Linked DNA regions of Homo sapiens: regions 1 and 2 are each reported to be linked to region 3. The links are microRNA targets in miRTarBase. Many come from high-throughput screens and were not tested one by one. Region 3 holds a microRNA gene; each other region holds the end of a gene's coding sequence.
Evidence for each region. The annotated mature microRNA hsa-miR-6737-3p reads UCUGUGCUUCACCCCUACCCAG and lies in region 3 at 5,981-6,002, opposite strand. An mRNA with a match to its seed (bases 2 to 7 or 8) in the 3' UTR can be bound and repressed. Matches are read on the target gene's strand: a 7mer-m8 pairs with bases 2 to 8, a 7mer-A1 pairs with bases 2 to 7 and ends in A, and an 8mer does both.

Region 1: the mRNA of BAMBI is a reported target of hsa-miR-6737-3p. Seed matches in the 3' UTR shown: 7mer-A1 at 929-935.
Region 2: the mRNA of CEP57 is a reported target of hsa-miR-6737-3p. The part of its 3' UTR that is shown has no 7-base or 8-base seed match.

The regions. Positions count from the first base shown.
Region 1 is chr10:28,681,634-28,691,469 of GRCh38, forward strand. It overlaps BAMBI (BMP and activin membrane bound inhibitor), which reads left to right. Exons shown (of 3, transcript NM_012342.3): 3 at 350-1,299. The coding sequence ends at 768. Among named protein-coding and RNA genes, the nearest start is that of BAMBI, 9.0 kb to the left of the region's middle. RefSeq lists an enhancer at 2,242-3,150.
Region 2 is chr11:95,828,225-95,838,456 of GRCh38, forward strand. It overlaps CEP57 (centrosomal protein 57), which reads left to right. Exons shown (of 11, transcript NM_014679.5): 10 at 963-1,107; 11 at 2,802-4,469. The coding sequence ends at 3,032. MTMR2 (myotubularin related protein 2) reads right to left here. Exons shown (of 15, transcript NM_016156.6): 13 at 9,870-9,983; 14 at 7,924-8,100; 15 at 4,656-7,227. The coding sequence ends at 7,066. Among named protein-coding and RNA genes, the nearest start is that of CEP57, 43 kb to the left of the region's middle.
Region 3 is chr1:153,956,371-153,966,602 of GRCh38, forward strand. It overlaps MIR6737 (microRNA 6737), which reads right to left and starts at 6,050; the gene lies at 5,981-6,050. It overlaps CRTC2 (CREB regulated transcription coactivator 2), which reads right to left and starts at 2,242. Exons shown (of 14, transcript NM_181715.3): 1 at 1,975-2,242. The coding sequence starts at 2,127. SLC39A1 (solute carrier family 39 member 1) reads right to left here and starts at 7,167. Exons shown (of 4, transcript NM_001271958.2): 1 at 7,125-7,167; 2 at 6,159-6,377; 3 at 5,850-5,980; 4 at 2,740-4,384. The coding sequence starts at 6,345. The coding sequence ends at 3,728. RefSeq lists enhancers at 1,432-1,651, 1,662-1,711, 2,272-2,471, 6,451-7,405, 6,734-6,803 and 5 more and a silencer at 1,872-2,021.

The DNA.
Region 1 (9,836 bases), not on the chromosome of region 3:
TGTTAATGTAATTAGAGACACCAGAGGGAGAAGCCTGGCTGGATGCAAAGATGCATCTTGATTGAGTGGCTTTTATGTCTGAGCATTAGATGTCTGTCTACATAATAGGTTTTGCCTGTTTTTTCAACATTTTGAAGACATTAAAAGGCCATTACATCTCAGTAATGACAGTCTGTAAACAAATGCGTTTGTAAGCTTCTTCAGATAGTTTTGCAATGTTTTCTAAATATCGTTGATTTAATTGTAAGCTTCTTTTTAATGGAATTCTTGGTTAAAATGAATTGATGATTATGAATATCCCTAGGAGGAGTTAGCATGGAGTTTGATCATTTTCTTTGTACTCCTTTAGGACAAGGAAACAGGTATCAGCATGATGGTAGCAGAAACCTTATCACCAAGGTGCAGGAGCTGACTTCTTCCAAAGAGTTGTGGTTCCGGGCAGCGGTCATTGCCGTGCCCATTGCTGGAGGGCTGATTTTAGTGTTGCTTATTATGTTGGCCCTGAGGATGCTTCGAAGTGAAAATAAGAGGCTGCAGGATCAGCGGCAACAGATGCTCTCCCGTTTGCACTACAGCTTTCACGGACACCATTCCAAAAAGGGGCAGGTTGCAAAGTTAGACTTGGAATGCATGGTGCCGGTCAGTGGGCACGAGAACTGCTGTCTGACCTGTGATAAAATGAGACAAGCAGACCTCAGCAACGATAAGATCCTCTCGCTTGTTCACTGGGGCATGTACAGTGGGCACGGGAAGCTGGAATTCGTATGACGGAGTCTTATCTGAACTACACTTACTGAACAGCTTGAAGGCCTTTTGAGTTCTGCTGGACAGGAGCACTTTATCTGAAGACAAACTCATTTAATCATCTTTGAGAGACAAAATGACCTCTGCAAACAGAATCTTGGATATTTCTTCTGAAGGATTATTTGCACAGACTTAAATACAGTTAAATGTGTTATTTGCTTTTAAAATTATAAAAAGCAAAGAGAAGACTTTGTACACACTGTCACCAGGGTTATTTGCATCCAAGGGAGCTGGAATTGAGTACCTAAATAAACAAAAATGTGCCCTATGTAAGCTTCTACATCTTGATTTATTGTAAAGATTTAAAAGAAATATATATATTTTGTCTGAAATTTAATAGTGTCTTTCATAAATTTAACTGGGAAACGTGAGACAGTACATGTTAATTATACAAATGGCCATTTGCTGTTAATAATTTGTTCTCAACTCTAGGATGTGGCTTGGTTTTTTTTTTTCTCTTTTCTTTTTTAAACAAGACCAAGATCTTGCTTATTCTTCCATGTGCCTGTGTAATTTTCTTACAGTGTGGAGTTTCTAAATGTATACTGACCATCTTTTAGTGTCTTACCCACATTCTGGCTATAGGATAACTCTGGTTTTAGCTTTCATCTAAGAAGGAGATCTGGAATTTATGTGTACCAGGTCAGATATGATTGATCAATTTCTGGAGTTGACCTAGCAAAGGTCATTTTGATCCAGGTGTTCCGGAATACCTTTTCCAATGTGTATACCTCCACCCAAAAAAGAAAAAAAAACCAACTAAACAACTGTTTTTTTGTTCAAGTCAGTCACTGTCTCCTTTTACTGTTGATTAATTGGCCAGTTTATTTTGTCCTAAGCCAAATTAAGTATTTTGGCTCCCCAATTAGCCAAACCTTACTGTACAACACACTTAATTTTAAACCTTGTGCTTCAACAGTGTGATGCTTTTTTTTTTTTTAATACTTAGAAAGCTTTTCTGTAGTGAACACGATACACCAATTGATTTAAATAACTGCTACTAGGTTTCATCCTCCCAAATGATCCTTTATGTAACCAAATAGAACATTGGCTTTAGCCAGTAACTAATACAGCTAGGAAACAATGTTTCCTCTTATAAGACTTTTTGTCCTGATAACATTGCCCATCCTGAATTTAAACGTATGCTTTATTTGTGTACTTCCCGTGCCCCCAGTGGATCTTTCTTATTTTAAATGTGAGAATATTATGCCATGGAGGGTATCTTCTGAATTCCTTTGTATATGTGAAATTTTTGCTTAAAAGTTAACCCGTAGGCCGGGCGCGGTGGCTCACACCTGTAATCCTAGCACTTTGGGAGGCCGAGGCAGGTGGATCACAAGGTAAGGAGTTCAAGACCAGCCTGGCCAACATAGTGAAACCCTGTCTCTACTAAAAATGCAAAAATTAGCTGGGCGTGGTGGCGTGCATCTGTAGTCCCAGCTACTCGGGAGGCTGAGGCAGGAGAATTGCTTGAACCCAGGAGGCAGAGGTTGTAAGCTGAGATTGTGCCACTGCACTCCAGCCTGGGCAACAGAGGGAGACTCCATCTCAAAAAAAAAAAATTACAGCCTGCATATTCGAGTATGGGGTTTTCTTTTATTAATATTAATAGACCACCTGCCCCAAAAAACTAAGCTGTGGAATAAACACATATTAATAAATGATAGCATTCGTACTGTCCCTTTTAAGATGAGCAGCTCTTGCATGCATGCCTTATATTTTATAAAAGATGTTAAGCTTTATGTATGTCAGTTTTTGAGGAAGCCAAAGAATTGTTGAACCCAACCCTTCAAACCTGTCAAGGGAATTGATCAAAGTTGTCTGTTGGTGAAATTTCCACCCTCACCTCCACCTCTGGCTCTTTGAGTCTCACTCTGTCGCCCGGGCTGGAGTCCGGTGGCGCCATATGTATCACTACAACCTCCACCCCACTCGCCACACACCACACGTGGTGCACACCACCCTGCCCCCTGCCCCGCCGCGGGTTCAAGCGATTCTCCTGCCTCAGCCTCTGAAGCAGCTGGGATTACAGCCACCCACCACCATGCCTGGCTAATTTCTGTATTTTTAGTAGAGACAGGGTTTTCACCATGTTGGCCAGGCTGGTCCCAAACTCCTGACCTCAAGTGATCCTCCTGCCTCAGCCTCCTAAAGTGCTGGGATTAAGGTGTGAGCCACTCTGCCCAACCCCACTCTGGCTCTTGATCACATTATAGTAGATTGTAGTTTAGAGATGAAAGGACTTCTTGCTCCTTGTACATTCTCATTTCATGTACGACATTATGCAAGCTCAGCAATTCTTCAAGTGGCCAGTTTTTATATCTGTTACGTAGTCAGAGTTTCTTTTCTCTGCTTGCCCTGATGAGGGCCGGTTCACCTCATTTTTTCCAAGTACAGGTTAACCAGGAACTCTGCAATTCTTTAGGAAATAAAACAATGAAGGATTTAAAGTCATGTGCTTTGAAACACTTTGAAATCAGTGAACCCCTTCCTCCCAGAGAGGCCTATGTCTGGACTGGTGTTACCACAAACTTCATGGAGGATGCATGCAGCCTCTCCACTTGATCTTGGGCCTTTGTTCTTCCTATTGTATATTCACGAGGCTATTTACAGCTCCCTGTACTGTGGGGAGGTGGCACTGTGCCCATGGCCTCTCAGTTTTCTGGGGCTCCGCTTCTAGCCACATAATAGGCCAGCCCTGCCTCTTTTCCTAAAAAAATCCTCTCTCTTGATATTCATTTAGTTTTTACACGTGTCCTCACCACCAATCTGAAAGTCAGATCCGCCTTCTTATGAAAATACTGCAGGCACCTCAACTTTGGATGTAACTAAGAACTACATATAGATTTTACTTTTGCTTCCCTGTGAGAGTGCAGAAGTTGCCAGGAGCCAGAGATTAAGGACTAAGATAAGGTCCAGGGTCTACCTGATTCAGTGATGTCAGAAGTGGTGGTGACTGGTTTATTTGTTTTTCCGTCTTAGAGATGTTTACTGTTACTCTGAGGTGTCACAAGGCCAGGCTAACCAGGAACAACCCTTGCTTAATATTGTCATAGAACTCCCCCCAAAAGGAATTTTCCTTTCTGAGTGGAAATTTGCCCAAACTAGAGACATGGGACCAAATTTGCCAAGATGATTTTCTATCTACAACTCCTTACATTCTACCACTGTTGAAAAAATTGATCTGTGCATGGTTATGTCTTTTATGTTATTTTTTTTTCCTTTTATTTTGAATGGCTTAGAGGCTTCCTAGAAATTGACTGGTGTGTCTCTAATTTCTGCTGAACTGATTTTATTAAAAACACTACACCGTAGGGGGTTTGACCTTATAAAATACCAAACATGTCTGCTTTAGAAAATCACAAAGCTTTCCTCTGAAGAGCTCATAAATCTGGTTTCAATATGGGTTGATTATAGGCTAAAAGCTTGAAAGCAGTGGCATCTAGTATCATGACTAGGGAACTGGCTCTTTTGGGGCCGGGATAGCTTTTTTTTTCCCTTACAGCCTCTAATTGGTCCTCTTCTCTGCCTCTCAGCTCAAATGTCTTTAAACCTCCACAGCTGTGCGAACTTCGGCAAATTATGTAAGCTCTTTGAATATTCACTTTTGTTGCCTGTGGTTGCCTGTGGAATGGGGGCCGTAGTAACACCTTGTAGGATTATTGTGAAGAGACATTGTAGCTATTTTCATTCATATACACAACATTCTTGCATAAACTGTGCCCACATAATATTCCTTAAAATCTGAGAACTTGTGCCCATTATTTGTACCGTACATTAATATTGCTTTTTAATATTTAAGATCTTTGCATACTTGAGACTTGCCAGTCACCTGCAGACTGGATATGGCATTTTAAATATTCATTTTCAATTTATTATTTTTGGCCTCTCATGCCTATTAAATAGGTTCATTTGTAATTGTTTCCTTCTGGAATAATACAGATGGCTACTGATGAGAATGTTTTAATCATATAAACTTACTTGAGTTTCTAGTATTTGATAGAATGAAGTTCCCTTGGAGTTTCAGCTGCTCCGAATGGTCAAACCATTGAGAAAATCAATGGATTTGATAGGTAGCAGATAATGTGTCCATATTGTTTGCGTGGCTTATGTCTGATTGGTTCATTCTCAACAATTGATTCTCAATGCCACAATCGATTACAGCCTGCCCCACGGGTGCTCCCAACAAAATACAAATACTTCTAGAACTAGTTTTTAGAACTTTGTGAATTTGGAAGTGGAGGAGTGAGTTAAAAATCATTTAATTACCCTGGATGAAATTAATTTAGTTACTCTGTGGGTCACAGTTATAATAGAAAAATTAAATGCTCCAGATACCAACATTTATAATAGAAAAATTAAATGCTCCAGATACCAACATTTATAATAGAAAAATTGACTGCTCCAGATCCCAACTGACTCCCCTTCCCTCTACCCAATTCATCCTGTCAATATGACTCTATCTGCTGCCTCAAAAAAAGCAGATCATTGATTTTTTTGGGGAATTAGAGATCCCATAGAATGACGAAATTCAACTCTCAAATTTTGGCAACTCTTTATTTGGAGTACATTTTACACTCTGAACATGTCCTTGTTAATCTGCTAACACTGCACTGTTTTGCAGCGTGGTGGTGTAATTCATTTGTCTGCCATTCCAGGAATTTGAGGATAGAATCAGGAAGGTGGCAGAGCTGAGATTAACCAGTTGGGGATTTACTTCTTCCAGCAAGGCAGCAATTTTCCAAGGGATGTGCTTTTTTAGAATTTCAGAGTATTTATTGCTAGGGAAGACCTATCAGCCAAACTTCTGCAAACTTTTCCCATTCTTTGAATATGAAAAGGGTAACAGGAAAGGCATTGATAAGCAATCTGGGGAGATAACTTGGGTAAGCAGTGAGATAATATCTCAAGGCATTTGTCATTCCTCAAGACTTTTAGGAAATTCATTCTATCTAGGAGCTAATGGCCCGCTGACCTCTCAGGGGCAATTTCAAATGGTGTTTAGCTCCCTGTATCTTGCAGATTAGATTGATGTTGGACTAAATCTGAATAGAACTCAGGAAAGATCAGCTGAAAACTATGCATGCTGTGTGTGTGTGTGTGTGTGTGTGTGTATGCCATGCTAATTGAATAGACTTCGTAATCCTGGAATAACTTTACATTTAACAATTTTCAAGGCATTGCATAAGTACATTTGGAACTTGCAAGAAGTCAGCAATTTGTTTTTAGACACATGAAGACTAAGTTGTGATGAATTAATAAACTCAGAGGCTGTTGTGTCAATTCACTCTGAAAGATCTCACATTACAAACCTAATGGAACAAAAATTGTTTTAGCAGTTAAAACCAAGAGAAATACAAAAAGCTCTTTATCCCCGGTTTCTTCCCCTTGGAATTTCCCTAGGGAACCGATGAGGACAGTGGAAAAACACCACACTTCTCAAAGCAAGTTTCTTACTTTTTAAGTGTTACAAGTTCACGGTGGAGTGTTTTTTTCCCCCTAAATTTAGTGGATGTGGTTTTGATACCATAGCTTTAATTCACAGTTGCCTTGGTAAATGAGGGCCTTTCTCACCTGGATTTGGGGATTAAACTGTGAACTCCCCGTGGGCAGGAGCTGTGATCAATAACCTTTGTACATTTCCAAAATCCAAAGGAGAGAATTAGATGAAGGACAGATTAAGACCTTTTGTTTTCAGGCACCTGTTTCTGGTTTTTAGTAAATAAATGTTGTCTTTCTCTTTCATTTCTCTATCCTAACTGATTGCTTTACAGATTTATAATTTTTGTCTGGAGAGCCTAAAGGAAAACAAATTGCTAGTGAAGGAAGTTGAGAAAAAATTCCAATGGGCCTGAACATTAACGAAACATTGCTAAGGTCAAATATCTGAGTCTACCTTTTATATTTGGTGCAGGCTCTAAGCTCATTTAAGGACTAATTCTCACCCAGAAGTGTATCACTATTCTCCTTTGAACTAAGAGTTGTACTTTCATTTTAGTATTTAAAGATAATCCAAAATTTCCACCATTGTCTCTCCAAGGAGTTAAGAACAAGCCACTGAGAGTTTTGTTGATCAAAAATGTTGAGAACCTGGAATACGCTACCTGATTTAGTATTTCATCCTCAATGGCTTGACAGGCCCTGCTATACCAGGGCAACTTTGGCAAATTCTCTTTTCTTCTCATGGAAATGAACCTCTGCCCAGAAGCTGTAATAAAAGCAACAAATAGCTCCCTGCCTCTTTCATTCAAGGACACACCAAGTTATAAATTCCCTTCCCTTCACAAACACTTAGCGTCTTCATGAAAAGTTTACCTTTAACTTCAAAATCCAAATAGCTCTTGTGCATCCATTGCAGTTTTATAATTCACACTTTTATATTTTTCTTTTTTTTTTTTTTTTTTTTGAGACGGAGTTTCGCTCTTGTTGCCCATGCTGGAGTGCAATGGTGCGATCTCGGCTCACTGCAACCTCTGCCTCCCAGGTTTGAACGATTATCCTGCCTCAAACTCCTGAGGAGCTGGGATTACAGGCATGTGCCACCATGCCCGGCTAATTTTGTATTTTTAGTAGAGACGGGGTTTCTCCCTGTTGGTCAGGTTGGTCCCGAACTCCTGATCTCAGGTGATTCACCTGCCTTGGCCTCTCAAAGTGCTGAGATTACAGGCATGAGCCCGGCCTATATTTATTTATTTTATCACATTATTATATAGTGTTCTTTTACAAAAATTACTTATTTTCGTAAGCCCAGCCTGTAGGTCAGGCTGGAGTGCAGTGGTGGGATCATAGCTCACTGCAGCCTTGAACTCCTGGACTCAGTGATCCTCCTGCTTCAGCCTCCGAGTAGCTGGGACTACAGGCACATGCCACCACGCCTGGCCTTATCTCATTTTTTTGGTAGAGGGAGTCTCCAGGCTGGTCTCAAACTCCTGGGTTCAAACAATCCTCCCGCCTCAGCCTCCTGAGTAACTGGGACCACAGCTGTGCACCACCATGCCCAGCTAATTAAAAAAAATTTTTTTTGTAGAGGTGAGGCTCTCACTTTGCTGTCCGCACTGGTCTCAAACTCCTGGCCTCAAGTGAACCTCCCTCCAGAGCCTCCCAAAGTGCAAAGATAAATTTTGAAAAAAGAATGTATATGTTGGGCAGGGGTGGCAGGAGCGGAAGAGAAGGGGAGGTCATTCTTGACTTCACAATCCTTATACACTATTTTTTCTAGTGTCCTGTGTTCCTTTTATTTATTTATTTATCTTAAAATATTATACATATCTTTATATTTTCTGAGTCCTGGCTCAAACCAGTATCAACCTGCTTCCTGCTTTTTTCTTTAATGTGTTAGATTTTAAAAAATTGATACACGATCGATATACATAATTTGGGGGCACATGTGATAATTTAATACATTCATGTAATTTGTACAGATCAAAGCAGTATAGCTGGGTATCTATCACTTTAAATATTTGTCTTTGTTGTATACTAGAAACATCTGGATTATTCTCTTCTAGTTATTTTGAAATATGTAATAGATTATTGTAAACTATAGTCACCCCACTGATCTGTCAAACACTAGGTCTTATTTTTTTTTTCTGTCAAACTATCTATTGGTACCTACTAACCAAGCTCTCTTCATCCCCCTCCAGTGGTGCTTACTAAAAATTGAATAAACGTGGAAAAGAGAAAATCTCCCTCTTTAAAAGGAACACTGTTGTGGACATTTTAAAATGCAAACGCCTTGGCTGGAAGTCAGAAATCGTGTTCTCTCTGCTAAACCTGGTGTAGCATTTAACACGCTTGAAGTGGAGGCATCTGGTCACCAATTTCACAGCCTGGACAGAGCAAGAAGGTGCGGCTGGTTTAGGAGGCGGCCTGCCGGGGGGGATCGTCTGTCCATCTGGGCTTGGTAAATGTCAAGGGTCATTTCCCTGTCCTGACATTTGATTGTGAAGCAGGTTGCGAGGTAACTCTTTCAAGGGACTGGACTGTGACAGTCACCATAGTTGGACAATAAAACCCGAACATCCTTCACCATCTTCTTTAACAATGGGAGGTTGTTTGTTGGCTTTGTATGCAAATTGGCGTGAGTAGCTAACAGGTTGCTTTGAAATCCTCAATTTGTTTACCCCAACCTGGGAAGCCTGACCTTTTCTTCAGAGGCAGATTTATGGAGCTATTTTTCATGGCTCTCAGCAATGAATTGGGTTCAGCAGGGTCCCTAGGATTTTCATTAACTCAAGTAGGCTTCAGAAGCAGAAGAGCTCTGCTGGTTCCCTGGACTAACACAGACAGTGGTGACCACGTCCTGCAGTTCCTCTAGGGCTCTGCTGGCTAGTCACAGCAAACTGCTGTGACATGCCATGTTTGCTGGCATGTGACAGCAAACAACTGCTAGGGGGAAAAAGAAAACCCTTTCTTCAGAATATCCATACACAAATACCTCATCTGGAGAAAAATACATTGGCCATTTTTTTTTTTGGTCTTCCCGTTTCTTCTGGGAAGTCACACCTTTGCACCTGGCCTAAAGAAGAACCTGCCCTTTTTTCTGAAGCTTTTTCTGAAAGTGCTTATCCTAATTTTTTTTTCTTTTTTGAGACAGGATCTCCCTCTATCGCCCAGGCTGGAGTGCAGTGATGGGATCTTGACTCACTGCAGCCTCAACCTTCCAGGCTCAAGCAGTCCTCCCACCTCACTCTTATGAGTAGCTGGGAATACAGGTGCACACCACCACACTCAGGTAATTTAAAAAAAATTTTTGTAGAGACGGGGAGTCTCACTATGTTGCCCAGGTTGATCTCGAATTCCTGGGCTCAAGTGATCCTTCCACCTTGGCCTCCCAATGTGCTGGGATTATAGGTGTGTGCCACCACACCCAGCCCACATCCTAATGTTTTTATAAGCCTGCATAGCTGTGATATGGTTTGGCTCTATGTCCCCTCCCAAATCTCATGTCAAATTGTAATCCCCACCTGTCAGCGAGGGACCTGGTAGAAAGTGATTATATCATGGGACTGGATTTCCCCCTTGCTGTTCTCATG
Region 2 (10,232 bases), not on the chromosome of region 3:
ATGTTTTGAAGACCAAGGTTTATATTTAAGTTTTATTTCTTTGAGAACTTATGATATACAGTCATGCATCACTGAATGACAAAGATGTGCTCTGAGAAATACATCATTAGGCGATTTTCTTTTCCTTGTGCTAACATAAGAGTGTGCTAAGCTTATAGCTTATTGCTCCTAGGCTACAAACCTATACAGCATGTTACTCTACTACTAAATACTATATGCAGTTGTAACACAATGGTAAGTATTTGTGTATATAAACATCTAGGTAGAGTAAAAATATGATACTAAAGTCTTACGGGACCACTGTTGTATATGTGGTCTGTTGTTTACTACATCATCATCTGGCACCTGACATCACATTCATTTTAGCTAAACTTAACTGATAAGACATGAGTGTTTGAAGAGCAAGATTCATCTGTAGACTTTACATATACAATACTCTTTTGGGGAAAATAAGAATATAAAGAATTAACCTTGAAATTAAGAACTCTTGCATTTCCCTCTAGTGCCTTTCTTGAACTTTTAAATTCATATTTTTAATTAAAAATTTCTTGATCTAGGCTAGGCATGGTGGCTCACACCTGTAATCCCAGCACTTTGGGAGGCTGAAGTGGGCATATCACATCCTGGCTAACAGGGTGAAAACCTGTCTGTACTAAAAATACAAAAAATTGGCCAGGCATGGTGGCAGGCGCCTGTAGTCCCAGCTACTCGGGAGGCTGAGGCAGGAGAATGGCGTGAACCCGGGAGGCAGAGCTTGCTGTGAGCCGAGATCATGTCACTGCACTCCAGCCTGGGCGACAGAGCAAGACTCCGTCTCAAAAAAAAAAAAAAAATTTATTGCTCTGTTCAAAAAATGGAGTCATTTTTTAAACACATGGAGCAGTAACCCATAATGAGGTATAATAGACCTAACCATGAAACACAGAAAACTTAACCATGTTCTACTTCTGCTTTGTATATAGTGATCACCAGCAGCTTGCAAAACTTATCCAGGAGTCGCCAACCGTTGAACTGAAAGACAAGTTGGAGTGTGAATTGGAGGCATTAGTGGGAAGGATGGAAGCAAAAGCCAACCAAATAACTAAAGTTCGAAAATACCAAGCCCAGGTAACTCAGTTTTCCTTCACTCAAGTTTCTAATGATTAAGAAAAAAAAAACACTTTAATTCAAATATTAAATGATGACACTAAGTGTATCATAGATAAATATCTACAGGAGATACTTCTTTACTGAAGACATTTGTTCATTGAGAATTGGTAAGTGGATTAAGAAAGAAGACACTTTTAGTCACTTAGCATATTCATCTAAGAAACATCTTTCAAATACTGAATATATTTAATATTCTTTATGAATAAGCTTTAACTTCTTTGATGAATTTAAATTGGAGTTTATCCAAGTAAGTTTTTTTAAAAGCACCTGCGAAATTCTGTTTCCAAAGGAATAAGTCATACATTAAATATGTGAAATATATTTATGTTGCTAATCATTTTATATCAGCCAACAATGTAGTACTACCAGATGCAGTGGTGACATCACACTCAAGGGTTTTCAACCAGAGAGAAACATGATTCATATATTTAAGAGATTACTGTAGTGACTAGGGGTAGGGTAATGGGATCAAGGCAGAGAGGCTGAGAGATCAGCTATAGATGTATCAGAGGTGGTCAGCAAGACAGTAGTTGGGTTTGGGCAGAGGTAAACAGATTTGAGGTATGTTTTGGAAGTAAAAAAAATATTGGGGTTACTTGCTGCTGGGTATCATGTAGAAGGAGAGGGAGTTAGGATGGTGATTCCACTGACTAAAATGGAGAAAGCTGAGAAGTTCAGAGAGCAGAACAGTTTTGTTGACTGTTGATTGGTAGCCATATGATAGACACACAGTGCCAAGTGCTCTGAGTATATCTTCTCATTTAATTTTCACAAAAGGCTTCTGAGGTGGGTATATTCTCATATTATAGATGAGGTAGATGCTAAGCCACATTTTCTGGGAAGTATGCATATATCCTCAGTGAAATTAAATAACTTGCCCAAGTACCAGCTTACTGGGAAATGGCAGAGCTGGGATGAAACTAGCCTTTTCAACTCTAAAACTTTGGCTGTTTTTTCAAAGTTCATGTATGAAAAAGAAATACAAGCAAATTATTCCTGTAGGAGTAAGGAGTAATGGTCTAATTTGTTGCTTATACTAATTAGACTTATTCTATTGGAACACCAACATGCCAGCATCAGTTTGGCTAAAGTAAAAATAAAGCTCCCGTATTTAAAATTATTCTAAAAATAATGGAACAAAAATAAAATTCTTTTCATAGTATTAATACATTACCAATTACATCTGTTCATCCATCTGGAAATTGCTTCTTTGCCTCCTCAGACTAGTTTCTAGAATATCTTTCTCCTCTTCTCCCATTTGTGAAAATCCTTCCCATTCTTCTTTTCTCTGTGTCTGATTTTTTGCCTCCTTCATGAGTCTTTCCTTCAACTCCCCTTGTTTCTCACTCGCCCTGTTCTGTACTTTGGCAATATTGCCTTAATTTAGGACAACCAGAATTTGTTTACTCATGTCTACTTGTTTGTGTATTGTTTTATATATATATAAGCATATATTTATTTATATTAATATTTAAGTGTTAAATGACTAGTGCAGTAGATTTTGAAGTCTTTAAAAGAAAGCCTAGAATGTATTATTTTTCAGTTAGCATGAGAGTTAACCAAAAAAAGGTACTCTTGTACTTTTTGTTGTCAGAAAAAAAATATTTTCATTAAATTCTCCTTTTCCTTCCTGCCTTGGTTATTTGGTATAGCTGGAGAAACAGAAGTTAGAGAAGCAGAAGAAGGAATTAAAAGCTACCAAAAAGACTCTTGATGAAGAAAGAAACAGCAGCAGCCGTTCTGGAATCACAGGGACCACAAATAAGAAAGATTTTATGAAACTGAGACCTGGAGAAAAAAGGAGAAAAAATCTTCAGTTATTGAAGGACATGCAAAGCATACAGAATTCATTACAAAGCAGTAGTTTGTGTTGGGATTACTGACTCATAACCAGGTCAGAAATTTTATTCAGATAATCTGTACCTCATCAATCAGATGATGACAATTTACTTCCCAGGTCTCATACTCACTTATGTTGGAATTAATTAATAGCAGGTGTTAAAGGACCCAGGCTTCATTACACAGGCTTTTCATGTATGCAGGATGACTCAATGTTAAAGCATTTAAATGGAAACCAGGGGAGTTTTAAAGCCCGAGAAACCACACATAATCTTTTGTTGAGATGAGTTTGCTGTACTGACGCTGCACTTTGTAAACAGATTACCAGTTTTTTACTTGTGGGTGTGATTTTTTAAAATAGTTCTTTATATATAATTAAAATTAGGTTTAAATTTTCAAAATATGAGACTATGCTATAGGCAGTGCTTGCTTGAAAAGTCTCATTTTTAAATCTCCCTGGCATGAGGTGCCCACTTCCCCTTTCCAAAGCAACCATTAAACATACTTTGTTTCTACTATTGGTGGAGTTTTTCTATATTTAAAAATACATATATATTTCAGAGGATTTTTATTTTGCTTTTTGGCATTTCAGACTTTGATCAGTGTTAAGTGCACTTGTATTGCTTTTTAATCTGTTAATTTTTTAAAGACCCAAGCAGTCATTTTGAGTTATATCTATAAAAATTATAAAAGGATTTTTGAAAGTATAAACAAATTGTCAGTGAAATAAATGAGATTTTGGAATAAAGTGAGAATGGGAGAAGGGATATGTTGTGAGCATATACCTTCACAGTTCTTAATACCTGTTTTGTAATCATGATATTCAGTCAAGGCATTATGGTTTTTAATCTTGAAACTTAGAGAACCCTTTGAATATTTGCTTTTACTGGTGTACAGTATGAGTGGAATATAAACTGTACACATAATTATCATGTTGATATAAATCATAATTTCAACTAGATCAAGACATGTTAACCTTTTATAAATTTAAAGTCAATAAAGCACCTTTTTAAAGGAAACACTGCAACTTTCCTTAACAGCCTGTTAATAAAGGCTTTGTGACAAGCTCTCAAAAAATGCATTTCTAAATAGGAGGACATCAATGTATTGATGAAGAGAAAAAACTAGTACTTAGTTGCCACACTCATGCTTACATAGAAAGAGAGCCCAAGAATATTAGATTTCCTCATGATACAAGATACTACAGTAACAGGCTTTAATTTAGGATCCTTAAGATTTTGGGGTATTATTTGTGACTCTCCTGAAATTGTAAACTTGTGCTTCTGTGTCCAGTTTTCTAATGAGTAGGTTCGTAGCTTGATTGAATTAATAATTGTGAGCCCATAGACACAAGGGAAGTGAGAAACAGTGCTCTGGTGACATGATAAATATATGTGTCAACCACCATTTCAGCTATTAAAAACTCCTGTTATCTCCTTGTTTGAATTTCAGGTCATTAAATTGTATAACCATCATTTGAATTGTAGTGGCTCTGAGTCCTAATTAGGAGAATGGTGATTGAATGATGCTAAATCCCACCCCTTTTCTCAGCTAGGATTCAAACTGAACTACTCCAGCTTTTTGTACTGTCAGGTGAGAAGTGAAAAAATACTGCTTCCATTTTCTTATCTGCAAGTTTACAGTAGAGGAATGTGTCATCCATCCACTTACGTTGTAACAGAGCTTTATTGCAATTCATTTCAAATAAGGTTATGTTTACAGACTTGTGGTAGACATGTGAATTGTTCATTCCAATATAATGTGAATTGCAGTGGTAGTAGCGGTATACACAGTGCTATGGGGGCACAGAGGAAGGTGGGGATGTCAGAGAAGGCAGTCGTGAATCAGATAACTTCCCAAAGGAAGAGATGATGCCTAAACTCTAGAAAATAGGAATTAGTCACAAGGGAGAACAGTTGTTCCAGGTGCACAAGACAGACTGAACCAAAGTGGGGAGGCAGGAATCTGCAGATTACATGAGGCAATTGTGAACAGCAGAGTAGCATTGGTACGTAAAAGTTGAGGTATGCAGAGACTAGGTCGAAGGAGGCTAAGGAGCTTCAACTTAATCATACTGGTCTCTAAATTTTGTAACCCTAATCAAAAAGGGAAAAAATTACACCTGCACAACCAATAGACATACAAAGTTATGAAACATGTAACTGTCAATTCAAATATTTAAAAGTTTTGCTTGTGTAAATATATAAAAAGGGCTAGTATTCCTCCTCCCTCCCTCCCACACACACCAGTGGTATATATTAAATGCCCAAGTGCATGTACTCCATATTGGAGACTTCTGCAGAAGGTGAGGGGAACCACTGGAAGGTTCTCAGCAGAGAAGTGGTAGGGTTGCACTTAGATTTCCCTGGCTTTTGATTTGAATTTGAAGTGGATGCAAGTATGTTAAGACTAGAAGCTTTAAATTCTTGATCTCTTCAGCCATTCTACATTCTTTTATGTGGTATCAGGCCAAGATAACCAAGGTTTAAATGAGGAAAATGGCAGATGCGTTTGTGAAATACTTGGAGTAGAAAGCTTAATTTTTAATTACTGATTTGCTAGCCACTTAAATGCCCTGTTAAAAAGCTTATATTTCACACAATTACCAAAGAAATCATTTTGGTACCAATTTTGCTAAATTGGATATACTAATAGAAACTTCCTCACTGCAAGACCAAGAGGGAGGCTAAGGTTCAGACTCTCTGTATAGTGAATTAGTGAGTGGAAAAACACTGTATATTTTAATTGTTTGATTTGGGTGTTGGTTAAGGAAAAATGGGTACAAACTGAACATTTTCATCTGGGGTGCATATTCCTCCAATAATTTCCAAATATTTCTGGGGAAAAAAAAGAAATGGCAACTTTGGACAAGAACAAAGTTTAAAAGTCAGTTGGAATTTCTTTTAATTAAAAGACCAAGGGGACAAGAAGCTCCTTTGTTACAGTACATTACATATGGCTCTTATGTAGAATAAAATAGACATCAGAGTCAAATGTTTCTACCAGCACCAAACTCTTACTTGTAGCAGGTGAACAGTGAAGCAAGATTTCTTTTACTGGCTTTGAGATTGTAATACATCTTTTACATGCAGTGTGTTCTTTGGTAGACTTAATCGTTGAGTGAAATTACAGAATTTGCAAAGGAAAAAAATGTAAAATTTGAGCACAGTACTTCTCACTATAAGCTATTTATACAGAATTCAGAAAAAATGTCAATCCTAGTAAGATTTTTAAATACTTCTTAAAAACTTGCTAATTAGCTTCTGTGTGTTCAGACACACAAGACAAGTGAAATACACTGTAGTAAATAATTAGTTTTTAAAATATCTTTCATGATGTTTCTGGTAATTGGGCTAATCTGAAGGGCATGGAATTCTTTGAACTCCTGTATGGCTACTTTCTCCCCTTCATTTTCCCCCAAGCACATCTATAAGGCCTCCCATTTTGGATCAACTTGCTAATATGTCTTAAGTATGTAAATAATGACGGCAATAATTTTCAACTACTACCACACCGTAGTATCTTCAACACTTTGCCTTTTACTATATGAAGAATATGGAAGTTGAAAAGTGATCAAGGTAAATCAGTTACTGAAAAAAAGAAAAACCTAGAATGGAGAAAGGGATATCAAATGATTTTGATCTGTCATGACATCAAGGCCCAATATATGTGATGCCACAGAATTTCAGTGTTGGTTTGAAAACTGATGTTCCTCTGCACAGTGAGCACAGAGTGTATTTCTAAAATGGTTTTAATATTACCAGATGCCAAAAATTTGTAACAGCATTTGCCTTTTAATAGAAACTTGTTCCCACTGTGAATCCAGGATTGAAGTATTTTAATATTCTTTGGATACTTAAAAGATTAGTATCATAATCATGTAATTACATATGGAGTTACTTCACTTAAGCCACCTGCACTGCTACAGTTCTAAACTCATCCTAGAGAGATTTAAAATAAATAAAGTGACTGAACTTTCTCTCATAGATGGGTTCTAAATTCCGAAGACTTTCTACTCATAGAGCTGCCAGTGTAATCAAGAGTGTATAGCAATGATGCCCCTGATCTTACAGTCCTTTATACAACAGTTTGGACAGGAGTGACACACTGTGCAGGAGAGCTGGCTCTCTCTGAGGATGAGGTTGATCGGTTAGAAATCTCTCTCTGTAGTTCCTCTACTTTTTTCTGAAGCTCTGCTCGTTTAGCAAGAAGTTCTTTGTATCTGTTGTGAATAGGTTCCTGCAAGAGCAAAACATAAAATATTCAACTAGGCAATCCTGACCAAAGCCAGGTCAAATCATTCCCTAAATGTTGCAGTGTATGTTTTTTCAGCTGTTGGAACCAATGGCACCTTTCCAACCCATCAGTGAAATTAAATACCGGGACTGTGGACACCACTAATCTTTTCACTGGCTTTCCCAGTGCCCCTGAGTATTTCCAAAGAATAACCTGCTGTGTAGGTGCTCCTGAAACTGGTACTTTTCCAAATACAACAAATAATTAACAAGACAATTAAAAGACAGTAGTCAGAAGATTCCCTGTTATTTATAGGTTTTTAGTCTTAAACAGTTCTAAGTAGTTAATATTCCATAAACATATTCACAGTAGACCAGAATTTTGTTCAGCTTTTAACTTTCCTAAAGCTACTTTCTTCAGCTTATTAAAACAAGACCCCCTAGAGGTTATCCAGACAGAGGAGGGAAGATGCAAGAAAAGAGAGCAGTGATTTGTCCAATGTCATACAAGCAGTCCTAAGAACCAGGTATACTGATTACCCTGCCCCAGTGTAGTATTTTTCTACTATACGATTGTTAACTATCAATGGGTAAGGAGTAAAGTTTTAAATATGCACAGATAATCTTTCCAGCTGCTTTTAAGGAGACAAAGTTGCACTGCATGAATGAAAACTCCCATTGTATATTGTAAGGCACATACCTGTGGTTTCATCCGTGGATTCCACCTTATGTAATATCCCACCCAGAGCTCTAGGTGGCGCATGCTGGCTACTGGATAAAGGACATGATTGGAATAGCTCCCATAGAGAGGATTAGTGAAGTCTTCCAGCTGGCTGTTTATGTAAGACCACAGTGACACAGTCCTTTTAGGAAGATTCTGTAGGCAGGAAAAATAGGTAAAGATTCTCCACCACATAAGCCATTTACACTTTAGATGAAATTTGTGAAGAAGTACTTTGTTGTCATTAAAATCTCTTTAGAGGAAGTGGACTTGGAGACTTCAGTGATAAACCAACTTATATTAAGATCAGAGGGTACTGGAAAACAGTATGCAGTTCCTCAAAGAGATACCATATGACCCAACAATTCCACTCTTGTACATATCCAGCAAACAGAAGACATGTCTGTACAAAAACTTTTTTATAGATGTTCAAAGCAGCATTATTCATTAACAGCCAAGAAGTGGGAACAACCTAAAAGTCCATCAACTGACGAATGGATAAGTAAAATATATCCACACAATGGAATATTATTCAGCCATAAAAAGAAATGATATAAAATGTATGAACCTTGAAAGCATATTAAAGGAAAGGAGCTAGACACAAGGTTTACATATTAAATGATTCCATTTATATGAAATGTCCAGAAGAGGCAAATCTAGAGACAAAAACATTAGTGTTTGGCAGGGGTGAATGGGGAGTGACTATTAACAGGTTTTCTGAGGTGATGAAATGTTCTGAAATGAAAATGTGATGGCTGTACAACTCAGATATACTAAAAACCAGTCAACTATACACTATCAAAGTGAATTTCATGGTATGCATATTATTATCAATTTAAAAAGTTTTTTTAAAAATAATCAATGATTCCTACCCCAAGGCTCTCAAAAAATAAAACTCTTCGAAACTTAGCTATGCTATTTCTAATGAACATTCCTTAAGTTGTTGAGTGCCTGCTATGCATAGAAATACTTACTGCATGCTAGACACTGAAGACATAAGGTGAATTTAAAAATTTAATACCTGCCTTTAAGGAAGTCTAGGAAATACTACATAGCAGTTCTTGTGGTATTTTGTATTGCTTATTTAATAATCTTCATAATTTTACAAAAGCAGACATTAACTTCCCCAAGCGAACTGTTACAGTAAGTGATAGATCCAGGATTTGAACCCAGCAACTGGGCTTCAGTGCAAGTACTTATTCCTACTGTGCTTTATAAAATAAAACATAAATACTTTGTAACCACATTTTTTAGAATAAAAGTTGATGCAGAGGGAGATACCAATCAAGATGATTAAGATGTTGATACATAGGATAGACAAGTTTTGATAAAGAAGTAAAACTTGAAATGTAATCCTTACACCATTTCTTCTTAATACCAACCCCACTTAACAGTGATACCTTTGGGGAAAAGGGATAACGAAAAACTTTAACTTTCTACATACTATCTTTTCCGTATTTGAATTTTTTTATGGTATTACTTTACAACTTAAAAAACTCAAAAACTTAACCTAAAATGTCTCAATAAGTAGGATATACTTGGGAATTTGAGCTGCCTATTCACTCGAATATACATTTTCTGCTAATTAAATTTTTCTGCACCTGCTGTAAAGGATTTCCATTCTACATGGAAAAATTGGTACACTGGTGCTCCTTAGATTTCACGTACTTCAGTTCTCTTTAGCAGAAACCACTTCCCACTCATGAACTCAGCAGACAGCTAGCTAGCACCTTCAGCCTTGTGACAAAGATACTTCAGAATATATCAGGTCCAGATATATGGAAGGAAGCCCTCAATATTATAGCATGTAAGATAAAGTATGACCCAAAAGAATGACTTCAGTTGAAATCTGTCACAGAGTACATTCTTTTAGGGAAAAGTATACAGTAGAGATAGTATGGGGAAGGTCATGTTTCATATTTTACCTCTTTTCCTCTCTGTTGTTCACTATTACAGAGGAATGTTCCGAATAAGCAGCTGTATAGGTGGTCCAAAATGGTAATGAGAAAATACTCATTGAATTCAAATGCGGTAGGAAACTGCAAATCAAACATCACAAACACATAAATTAAGACATTCTTCAAGCATATTCATCCCTGTCATGGGTAGATCCTTTTGAGGTAGTATTTAAAATGAAGTTAAACATTCAAATCTACATTATTCCAAGCCATTATGGCATTATTCGTATGGTTTTCTTTTCAAAAATCATGTTATCACTTTTCTGATCATGATGTTTCTGTATCTGCTATATCTGCTAACCCTAAATTTGCAGGCTGAATTTTGACTTA
Region 3 (10,232 bases):
TTTAGCCTGTGTACAGACATCCTGTCTCTGTGAGAGGTGAGCATCTATTTCCAAGGCTCAGCCCCTGCGACCAGCCAAATAAACAGGCCCAGGGCAAGGCCATGGGGAGGAGGGCAGCTGAGGAGGGGCAAGTTCTAAGAGCTTCCAGGGTCACACTCTTGTACAGAAGCCAACATCAGAACTGACATTCTGTTCCAGGAGGTCAGCCTAGTGAGCACTGTGCTGACCTCTGGACCACTTGAAGACCACTTGAGGTCTCATATATGGCAACCCCAGTATCTCAGTGGTATAGCCTCCCATGGCCATCTCTGTCTCAAATGAGCCCTCCCACCTGGCCAGATAACAGGCTGAGTCCCAGATCTCTTGTCCCTAGCTCTAGACTTTTGGGTCCCCTGGCCATGTATGCCCACTAGACTTTTCTGTGTAGCTGAGAAATTAACCAATAGGAGCAAGGTGGGTAGAAGGGGCCTTTTAAGAGATCGAGGCACCGTAAAGAGAAGCCCCAGCTTTTGAGTTTCGCACAGCCTTTCTTTGCACATACGAGCCCTAAGATCCCACCATGCCTCTGCTAGAATCACAGTCCTGAGGGCAGGGCCTCACGCTATCAAGATCAGCCTCCCATCTTCCTGTCTCTGTCCCCAACATGATGAAAAAGCTCCTAAAGGGGAGCAGTCTACAGTTAGATAATAATCCTCACAATGGTTACAGTGGGTTATGCACACACATGCATTTAAGTGTGCACATGCGTGCACAGACACCCTCCCAGATTTGCCTCCCCACCTAACTTCTGACTCCCACAAACTAGGGCACATAGTCCCTAGAGACTCAAAGGGGAAAGGACGAGAAAAAAAAAAAAGTAACAGAGTCAAGGGGGATACACACAAAAATACAACCAGAGTCACAGTCATAAATGCAACCACAGTCAGACCAGCAGAAAAAGGCTAGAGATGTTGTAGTAATGTTCCACCATCAATCCTTAAATTCCTTCTAGCTCTCTGCCATGAGGAATCATTGCAATATCCTTACCTACTGTTGTTTTAGAAGAATGTGTCCCTAAATTAAGACTGCATACCACCTAGGCGGACTCCTACCCCTTGGTCCCTCTGACCTCCAGCCTTGGAAAGCAAGAAACCAAGCCAGGGGGGCTTCAGAGGCAGCCTGGCAGAGGCCTGAAAGTTCTTTCAAGAACTCCTAGGAATGAATATTCTCAACACATAGAAGACCCTCCAAGGCACCCTACACACTAACCCACAAAGCAGCCAACTCCCTAGAAAGCTCAGCAAACCATAGAGTTCCACACAACTTATGGTCGGACGGTTACCCAGTTGTCGGATTCAAAACCCTACCTCTCCTCCAAGGAGGCCAGGACAAAACACCAAGCAATGGACCTCACCTTCATTCACGTCAGGAAACCACAAGAAGTATTTGAAAAAGGAAGCAAAAGGACGGGACGCAGGAGGGGACTTCCTGCCCCACTATACACAGCACCGCTCGTTCAAACCACTCAAGGGGCCCTTTCCCGGGGGCACCAAAGCGCAGAAGGCAGAGGGACCAGTTTGGAGGAGATCACAAACTCAGAGGAGCCAGGTTACAGACAAGCAGCCCTCCTCCCAGGCCATACCCCAATACCAGGCATGCTTCAGTAGCGTCCTCGAGGGGACTCCGTCAGGGATGCACAAGGACCACTCACCTCCTACCTCCGCCGGACTTCATCTCCCCTCTCCGCCCACTCCCACCTCACGTACTCGGCCCCCAGTCGCCTCTACACCCCGAACCTCTCCGGTGTTTCGGTCTCCCCCGGCAAAATCCTTCTTCCTGCCCCTCGGCCCTCAACCTGCGCCTCCCAAACGGCGGCGCCCGCGTCCCCTGCTCTGTTCCGCCTCCTTCGCTGCGGCGCCCGCCCCCGCCCCGCCTCTCCGGTCTCCGCTCCGTAACTGCTCAGCTCTGCTCCGGCTCCCCGGCGCGGCCCCTCACCCGGGTGGAGCCGATGTCCATCATCACCTCCTCGAAGGCCGCCGTCTCCTCGGCCTGACGCTGCTTCTGCAGCGCAATCTTCTCACTAAATTTGCGCGGATTGGAAGCCGAGGCCGTGGCCGAACCAGGCCCGTTCGCCCCCGACGTCGCCATCTTCCTTCCCCGTCCCTCCCTGCCACCCTCCCAGTACCAGCCGCGGCCTCCGCCGCGGCCTCGGCCCGGCTCCTCCAGCCGTAGCCACCGCCGCCTCAGCGAGCACCGCGAACCCGGCCCCAGCCTAGCCCTGACCTGTTGCGCGCGGGGGCCGCCGGGAATTGTAGTTTGTTTACGAGACTCCTTCACATCCCCAGTCACGCAGCACTAGGAGGAAACGGACTCCACTTCCCAGCAGCCCTGCTGACTCCGGAAACTGGGGACTTGGCTCCACCCTCTCGGCTACTCCCTGAGAGGTGCAAGCTGGGAAGAGTAGTTCTAAATTAGCCCTGAGACTACGAACGGAAAGGAGAGAGGGATTGAAGAGAGAAGAAAGGAAGAGGGAGGGGAGGGAAGAGAAGGGAAGCCGAGGGGTGGAGACCGGGAAAGAAGTACCAAGACACAAAGGAGGAAAAATTAGGTCATCTTCAGGGAAGGGGACTATCGGGTCCTGAGTGAAAACAGTGAGACCAAGAATCTTAAAACAGCTGTAAACATCTGGGACTCAGGCCCTCTCAGGCTGGCCACATGCCCACCCCTTTCCCAAAACAAACGAATCAGATACTGTACAGATGTCTAGAAACATCTTTTATTTGGGTAACAGGTCCCAAAACAGGTCAGTTAATAAAATAGATTCTAAAGAATATGTCCCTATGCACAGCCCTCCCTCCCCAAAAATAACGCTGGGGGTAGGCATTGCCCTTCCCCCTTGGGCTCCTCGGGTGTATTTAAAAAAATGTTTTGGCAGCTCAGTGTTTATCATCTGGGCATGGGACACCATGTCCATGTCCCCATATTCCTAGGGTACAGCAGCAGTAGATGGCTGCAACAACCTTCCTCCTACCCCAGCCCAGAAAATATTTCTGCCCCACCCCAGGATCCGGGACCAAAATAAAGAGCAAGCAGGCCCCCTTCACTGAGGTGCTGGGTAGGGCTCAGTGCCACATTACTGTGCTTTGAGAAAGAGGAAGGGGATTTGTTTGGCACTTTAAAAATAGAGGAGTAAGCAGGACTGGAGAGGCCAGAGAAGATACCAAAATTGGCAGGGAGAGACCATTTGGCGCCAGTCCCCTAGGAGATGGGAGGAGGGAGATAGGTATGAGGGTAGGCGCTAAGAAGAGTAGGAGGGGTCCACTCCAAGTGGCAGGGTGCTGAAATGGGCTAGGACCAACAGGACACTGACTCTAGGTTTATGACCTGTCCATACCCGTTCCACAGCAGCTGGGTACCCACCTCCAGCCTCCCATGTGAGCCTGTCCTTATGTATAGTGTCCAACCTCTGATTCTAGCAGTCAAGTGTCTTCCCCAATCCTAATGTCCCCTGATATGTCTCTAGCGACTTGACCATCTCTTGTTCCTTGGGACTGGGGCCAGCCTCTTGTCTGCCCACTTCCCTCTCATTAGTCAGATAGCCCCAAAGGCTCTATCTTTAGCTCCCAGAGAACTTTTTGGTCCTCAGTATTTCCCTTCCCCTTTCCTTCCTATTCCCCACAACTGGGGGAGGGAAGGGAGAACAGGGGCACCTGATCATCAATCTCCCCTGCCCCTCTCTTGAAGCCCCCTAGATTTGGATGAAGAGCAGGCCAGTGAGCAGGGCAAAGCCTGCTAGGAGCAGAATGACCTTGAGGATCCTTTGCTCAGAACTGGCCAGCTCCTGGGGCAGGATTTCCAGAAAGGTGATATAGAGAAAGGTGCCAGCTGCCATGCCCTCTAGCACAGACTGGGCCAGCTGGTGCAGAGGTCCTGCCGACTCTGCCAGAGCTGCACCCAGCCCGATGCCTAGAGGTGTCATGCATGAGAAGAGGATCCCACAGCCAGCCACCACCTGTGCCCTAAGGTGGCTCTGCAACAGCCGCAGGGACAGGCTGACAGCCAGGATGCCCTTGTGGAGCAGCAAAGCCAGGCACAGCTCCATGGCCCGAGCCCGGTCTCGCTGCAGCCCTACCGCCAGCCCCTCGAACACGGAGTGGAGGGCCAGGGAGAACACCAGTACACAGGCACGCAAGGCTGAGGGGGTTGCTGGGGCTCCACTCGCCTGTGGGACCCCTGGCCCATCATGCCAATGCTGCGGCCCACCATTCACTGTTCCCAGCAGAGCCCTTGTTTCCTCCAGAGGTGACGGCCCTGACTGCTCCTTGTAAGCCAGTGTGATCTGCTCCATCACCAGGACCAGGAAGAAGCCCATGGCCAGGATGAACTCTTGCAGTGGGAACTGGAGCTGTGGGCAGAAGCAGCAGCAAAATGTTCAGGGAAGGAAGAGTGAGATGCAAAATCTGGTGAAAGCCCAGTTACACAGACCTAGGGTCTGACACAGACACAGGGCTACTCTCAGTCACACAAAGATAGAGTGAATTGGTAACACTGACACAGAATGATACGTACACACAGATTATGGTGTCACTCACAGTGTTACGTGTAGACCAAAGTTTCTCAGCTTTGGAACTATTAACATTTTGGGGCCAGGGGCAGTGGCTCATGCCTATAATCCCAGCACTTTGGAAGACCAAAGTGGGAAGATCACTTGAGGTCAGGAGTTTGAGACCAGCCTGGCCAACATGGTGAAACCCTGTCTCTACTAAAAATACAAAAATTGGCAGGGTGTGGTGGTGGATGCCTGTAATCCCAGCTACTCAGGAGTCTGAGCCAGGAGAATCACTTGAACCCAGGAGCCAGAGATTGCAGTGAGTCGAGATTGTGCCACTGCACTCCAGCCTGGGCAACAGAGCAAGACTCTTTCTCAAAAACAAAACAAAACAAAAACAAACAAACAAAAACATTTTGGGCCAGATAATTCTTTGTCATGGGAGCTGTCTTGTGCACTGTAGATTGTTTAACAGCATTTCTGATCTCTACTTACCAGATGCCAATAGCAGGCACAATGTTCCCTCCATCCCCCTCCCCATTGTGACAACTAAAAATATCCCCAGACATTACCAAATGTTTCCTGAGGGGCAAAGCCACACTCCTAGTTGAGAGTCACTGATGTAGACATACATGAAAAGGTCACACATTGCCCATCTCCCCAAATACTCATACATAGAGCCACATATCACAGGACATTCAGGCTTATACGCAGTCACACGGAAACACAGGTCACTCAGTCACAGACACACAAAGGGATACATCCAGTGTTACTTCCTCAGTTTTAGAGGAAAAAAGGAAAGAGCCCAGGATGACTTTCCTGCCCCACTATCCAACGGCCTCAGTTTTTCCTATAATAAACCAAGTCCTATGCCGTGGACTTGATCATTCCTCACAGCCCACTTCCTTGGGCCAAAGCCTAAAAAGGTTAGCAACACCAAGACCCAGGGAATCGCTTCCTATCCTTCTCAGGCCTACAGAGACCTCTATCTCCAGCCCTTTAGGAAAGTGGTGAGAGAGTGAAGATGATTCTTGGAGCACTTGCTGGTAGCTAGAACTGAGAACCCATAGAGCAAGTCACACACCTGAGAAAAAGTGTCTTACTGTCTCAACGGGAATGTAGGGGTCACACAGGGAATGGGGAAGGGGGAGGGAACACATAGAAAGAATTATGCCCCATAACCAAAAATCACAATTCATACCACATGCCAAAAGTCTTCCACACAGTCATGGAGTGGCACATGAATCAATCTCCACAAACCAACACTCCCAGAGGTGTGTGATTCCCCTCCCGCAAGTCACATGCCCAGGCCAGTGCTCACCGTCACGTGCAAGGCTGCCAGGGCCTCATCTATGGCAGCCAGGTAGTCAGGCAGCAGGTCCAGGAGACAAGTGGCCAAAAAGACGCCCCCCGCGAAACAGCTTACTAGGCTCAGGGCTTTCTGGCGGGAAGCTGGGTAGGGGTGAAGCACAGAGGGGAATAAGCAAACAAACCCCCTCCAGGGCCGACCACCCCAACCCAAACAATGGCTACCCTTGCCTTTCCCTCCTCCTTTGGTCACTCCCCGCCAGCCCCAGAGCCCTCCCTAAGCCAAGCATTCATAGCAGTGTGGGGAAAAGGAGAGGCTTACCTGAGCCTTCATGGTTAGCTCCTGGCCGGCGCAGCACACAGATGGGCACCAGGCTGCAGAGGAGGGTGAGCACCAGCAGCAGCACCAGGGCCCCCAACTTCACCTCCAGCCCCACAGGCACTGGAGGCTCTGAAGCTACCGCCTCGGGGCGCCACACCAGGAGCTCTGGCTCTCCCCAGGGCCCCATGATGCTTCTGGTAGCTCCAGTGACTCTCAGACCTAGGAAGACAGACCAGAGTGGTTGGGAAAAATCATGCAAAGGAAGATGGGGCAAGGAATGGGGAAGCTTGGTCAGCAGAGTGCAGCTCCCTGGCCCCAGCCACTTTGTGACCTTCCCCTACCCAGGGTGACTCATCTACTCCTGTACCAGGAACATTCCTCTCTTCTCACACTTTCTTTCCCAAGTGACTTATTCAGGGAGACTGCACGGGGGAAACCGAGGCATGAGAAAGGCTGTATGGATATCTCATCACCCTTTCACCTGGTGCCCCCAGAAAACTAGGAAACTAGGAGCCGCCTCCAAATAGGACCTGGAGCTGGAGTTCCCCTAAGGAATGTAGAGGCCGGGTCCCCAACTCCCGAACGGAGTGGGTGAAGCCAAAAAGGCTAGGGCTGTGCAGAGATGTCTTGGGTAGCTTCGTGGGCCACCTGGACAGGGTAAGTTTGGGTGCTGGATCGCTCCATCGTTCCCCTTTTCCCAGCGCAGAGAACAAGCGCTTCAGGCCCCAGGATGGGACCTAGAGGCAGATGGCCAAAGAGAGGGGCCCTAAGAGTCTGCGGTCCCGGGACGGACTGAGGCGACACTGAGGGCGGTGCCTGAAAGTCCGGGCTCCAGGAGGCGGGGTGCGAGGCCGCCAAGCGTCGCGGGAAGCAGATGAAGAATGCGTGAGCTGGGACTCCTGTTCCCGGGCCCGGGGAGGCCTGGGCAGCCGACATGGACCCCGCTGCCAGACAGCCCGCACTCACCTCGCGAGGGTCTCACTACATGGTCTCCGCGCGCTTCCGGCCTAGAGTCGGGAATTCCCGCCCCCTCCCATAGCTCCCCCCTCCCCCACAGGAGCCGCGTACCCACGACCGACTGCCAATGGCAGCACCGAGTGGGCGGGGACAGACCGGGAGTGACGTCAGTTAGGAGCAATCAGAGATCGGGAGCGGGAGCGGGCGGAGCAGGCGACCTGAGGAGAGTGAGCGAGAGCAAGAGCGGATATTAGGAAAAGGACCTCGGGGCTGGGGCCCTGGGGCGCATCTGTGGAGGACTGAGGGGCCGGAGCGGGCCAGTCAACAAAGGCTTTGATTATATGGATATTTTTAAAAGAGGGAGACCCCGCATTGTCAAGTCTTCCGGCCCACATCTGAAAACATCTTCCTGGCCTTGGGCCAAAGTCTCATCTGTCCCTCAGAAGGCTCTGACACCTCGTCAGTGCCTCTTGGCGCCCAAGGGAAAGCATTCCCCTCTTGGGACCAACTTCCTTGACTGCTTTCCCTCACCAGCACCCACAACAAGGAAAAAGACAAGGCAGAATTGGAAAGGGGGGAAAGCAAAGAGAGGGTATGTCTTGAAAATCATCCCTTCTCGACTACTTATGGCACTCAGTGCAGCCTCCGCCTTCTCCAGGTGGGTGGGGACGTGGTGGGACCGGAATGCGGGGTGCTGAAGCCGCGCCCAGGGAAGAGCCCCCAGCGCATTCCAGGATATCTGCGTACCGCGCCTGCGGGCGTCTGGCCGGTTCTCCCACCTGATTTCCAGCCCAGCTCCCGCCACCCTCGCCGGTCGGTTTGCTGTTTGCTGTTCCTTGAATGCCCCAAGGTAGTTGTTTCAGCTCAGGACTTTCACCGTTTCCTCAACCTGGATTCTTGTGGCCCACAACTCTGTGCCTTGAGAATCCTCTTCTAGCCTCAAGGGACGGTAAGACAAAAGAAAATTTAAAAAGGGGGCTCAGCTGTTCTTTTATGCAAAGGTGAAAAAAGCTTCATTGCCTAAAGAAGGGACAGATGGGATCTTGCTTCCTACAGGAAAATTAATTTTAAAAAAGAAAAAAAAAAGGGGGGACAGTGTAATGCTTCTCACAAGGCTCCAGAAACGAAGCCCAGTAATTCCTTAAGTAAAAGAGGAATGTGAAGACTTCTTAAGGGGCCGGGCGCGGTGGTTCACGCCTGTAATCCAAGCACTTTGGAAGGCCGAGGATGAATCACCTGAGGACAGAAGTTCAAGACCAGCCTGGTCAACATGGTGAAACCCCGTCTCTACTAAATATACAAAAATTAGCCGGGCGTGGTGGCGGGGGCCTGTAATCCCAGCTACTCGGGAGGCCGAGGCAGGAGAATCGCTTGAACCCGGGAGCCGGAAATTGCAGTGAGCCGAGATCGCGCCATTGCGCTCCAGCCTGGGCAACAACAGCGAAACTTCGTCTCAAAAAAAAAAATTATTCGTAATTGGTAACATTAACAAGGAATTATGACTGGGGGGGTCAGGAAACCTGGATTCTGGTCCAAGTTCTACCTTTATAGTTGTCAAATATATATATTTGTTTATTTATACACATACATATGTCATATATGATTAATAATTGTATATATTTATGGTGTACAACATGATGTTTTGAAATATATGTACATTGGGCCGGGCGCGGTGGCTCACGCCTGTAATCCCAGCACTTTGGGAAGCCGAGGCGGGCAGATGACGAGGTCAGGAGTTGGAGACCAGCCTGCTCAACATGGTGAAACCCTGTCTCTACTAAAAATACAAAAATTAGCCAGGCGTGGTGGCGCATGCCTATGATCCCAGCTACTCAGGAGGCTGAGGCAGGAGAATCGCTTGAACCGGGGAGGCGGAGGTTGCAGTGAGCCAAGATCACACCTCTGCACTCCAGCCTGGACGACACAGCGAGACTCCGTCTCAAAAAAAAAGAAAAAAGAAAAGAAATATATGTACATTGCAGAATGGGTAAATCAAGCTAATTAACATATGCATTACTTCACATATTTATTTGTGATGAGAACATTTAAAATCTCTTGGCAACTTTATTTCTTTTCTTTTTCCTTCCTTCCTTCCTTTCTTCTTTCCTCCTTTCTTTCTTGACAGAGTCTTGCTGTGTTGCCCAGGCTGGAATGCAGTGGCATGCTCTTGGCTCACTACAACTTCTGCCTCCCAGGTTTCAAGCAATTCTCCCGCCTCGGCCTCCCGAGTAGCTGGGATTACAGGCGCCCGCCACCACGCCCGGCTAATTTTTGTATTTTTAGTAGAGACGGGATTTCACCATGTTGACCAGGCTGGTCTTGAACTCCTGACCTCAGGTGATCCACCCGCTTCAGCCTCCCAAAGTGCTGGGACTGCAGGTGTGAGCCACCACACCCGGCCCAATAGATCTCCTCAATTTTACCTTACCTTGATGTATGATTTTAGGCAAGTCAGTTTTCCTCACCAGAGTTTGATAAATCAGGGGCAAGGAGGAAGTTAAACAAGCAGATGACTGCAGAGGGTCCTTCCAGTTCTAACATCAACGGAAGCTAACTACATTCCCCACTCAAATCATCTCTGCACATACAGCCCGCAGGAAGCCCTTTGAAATGTATTTAACCACCTTTCTCGCTCTCAGAATGATCTCAACAAGAACAGCTTTGCTTTCCTTGGAGCTCTGCATCAATCTAGGAAGGCTGCTTTGTCTCTTCACTACTTGAGCAGGATGGAGAGATATGAGCGGGAAAGACAGATAAGAAATCTGAGAAAGCCCCACAAGGTGGGTTGATAGTGTGAAGAACATGGGCTGAAGCATCCAAATCTTGGTTCAGCTACTTACAGGGTAACCTTGAGAAAGTTACTTAAACTTGTCAGCTCGGACGGGCGTGGTGGCTCACGCCTGTAATCCCAGCACATTGGGAGGCCGAGGTGGACGGATCACGAGGTCAGATCGAGACCACCCTGGCTAACACGGTGAAACCCTGTCTCTACTAAAAATACAAAAAAATTAGCTGGGCGCCTGTAGTCCCAGCTACTAGGGAGGCTGAGGCAGGAGAATGGCGTGAACCCGGGAGGCGGAGCTTGCAGTGAGCCGAGATCGAGCCTCTGCACTCCAG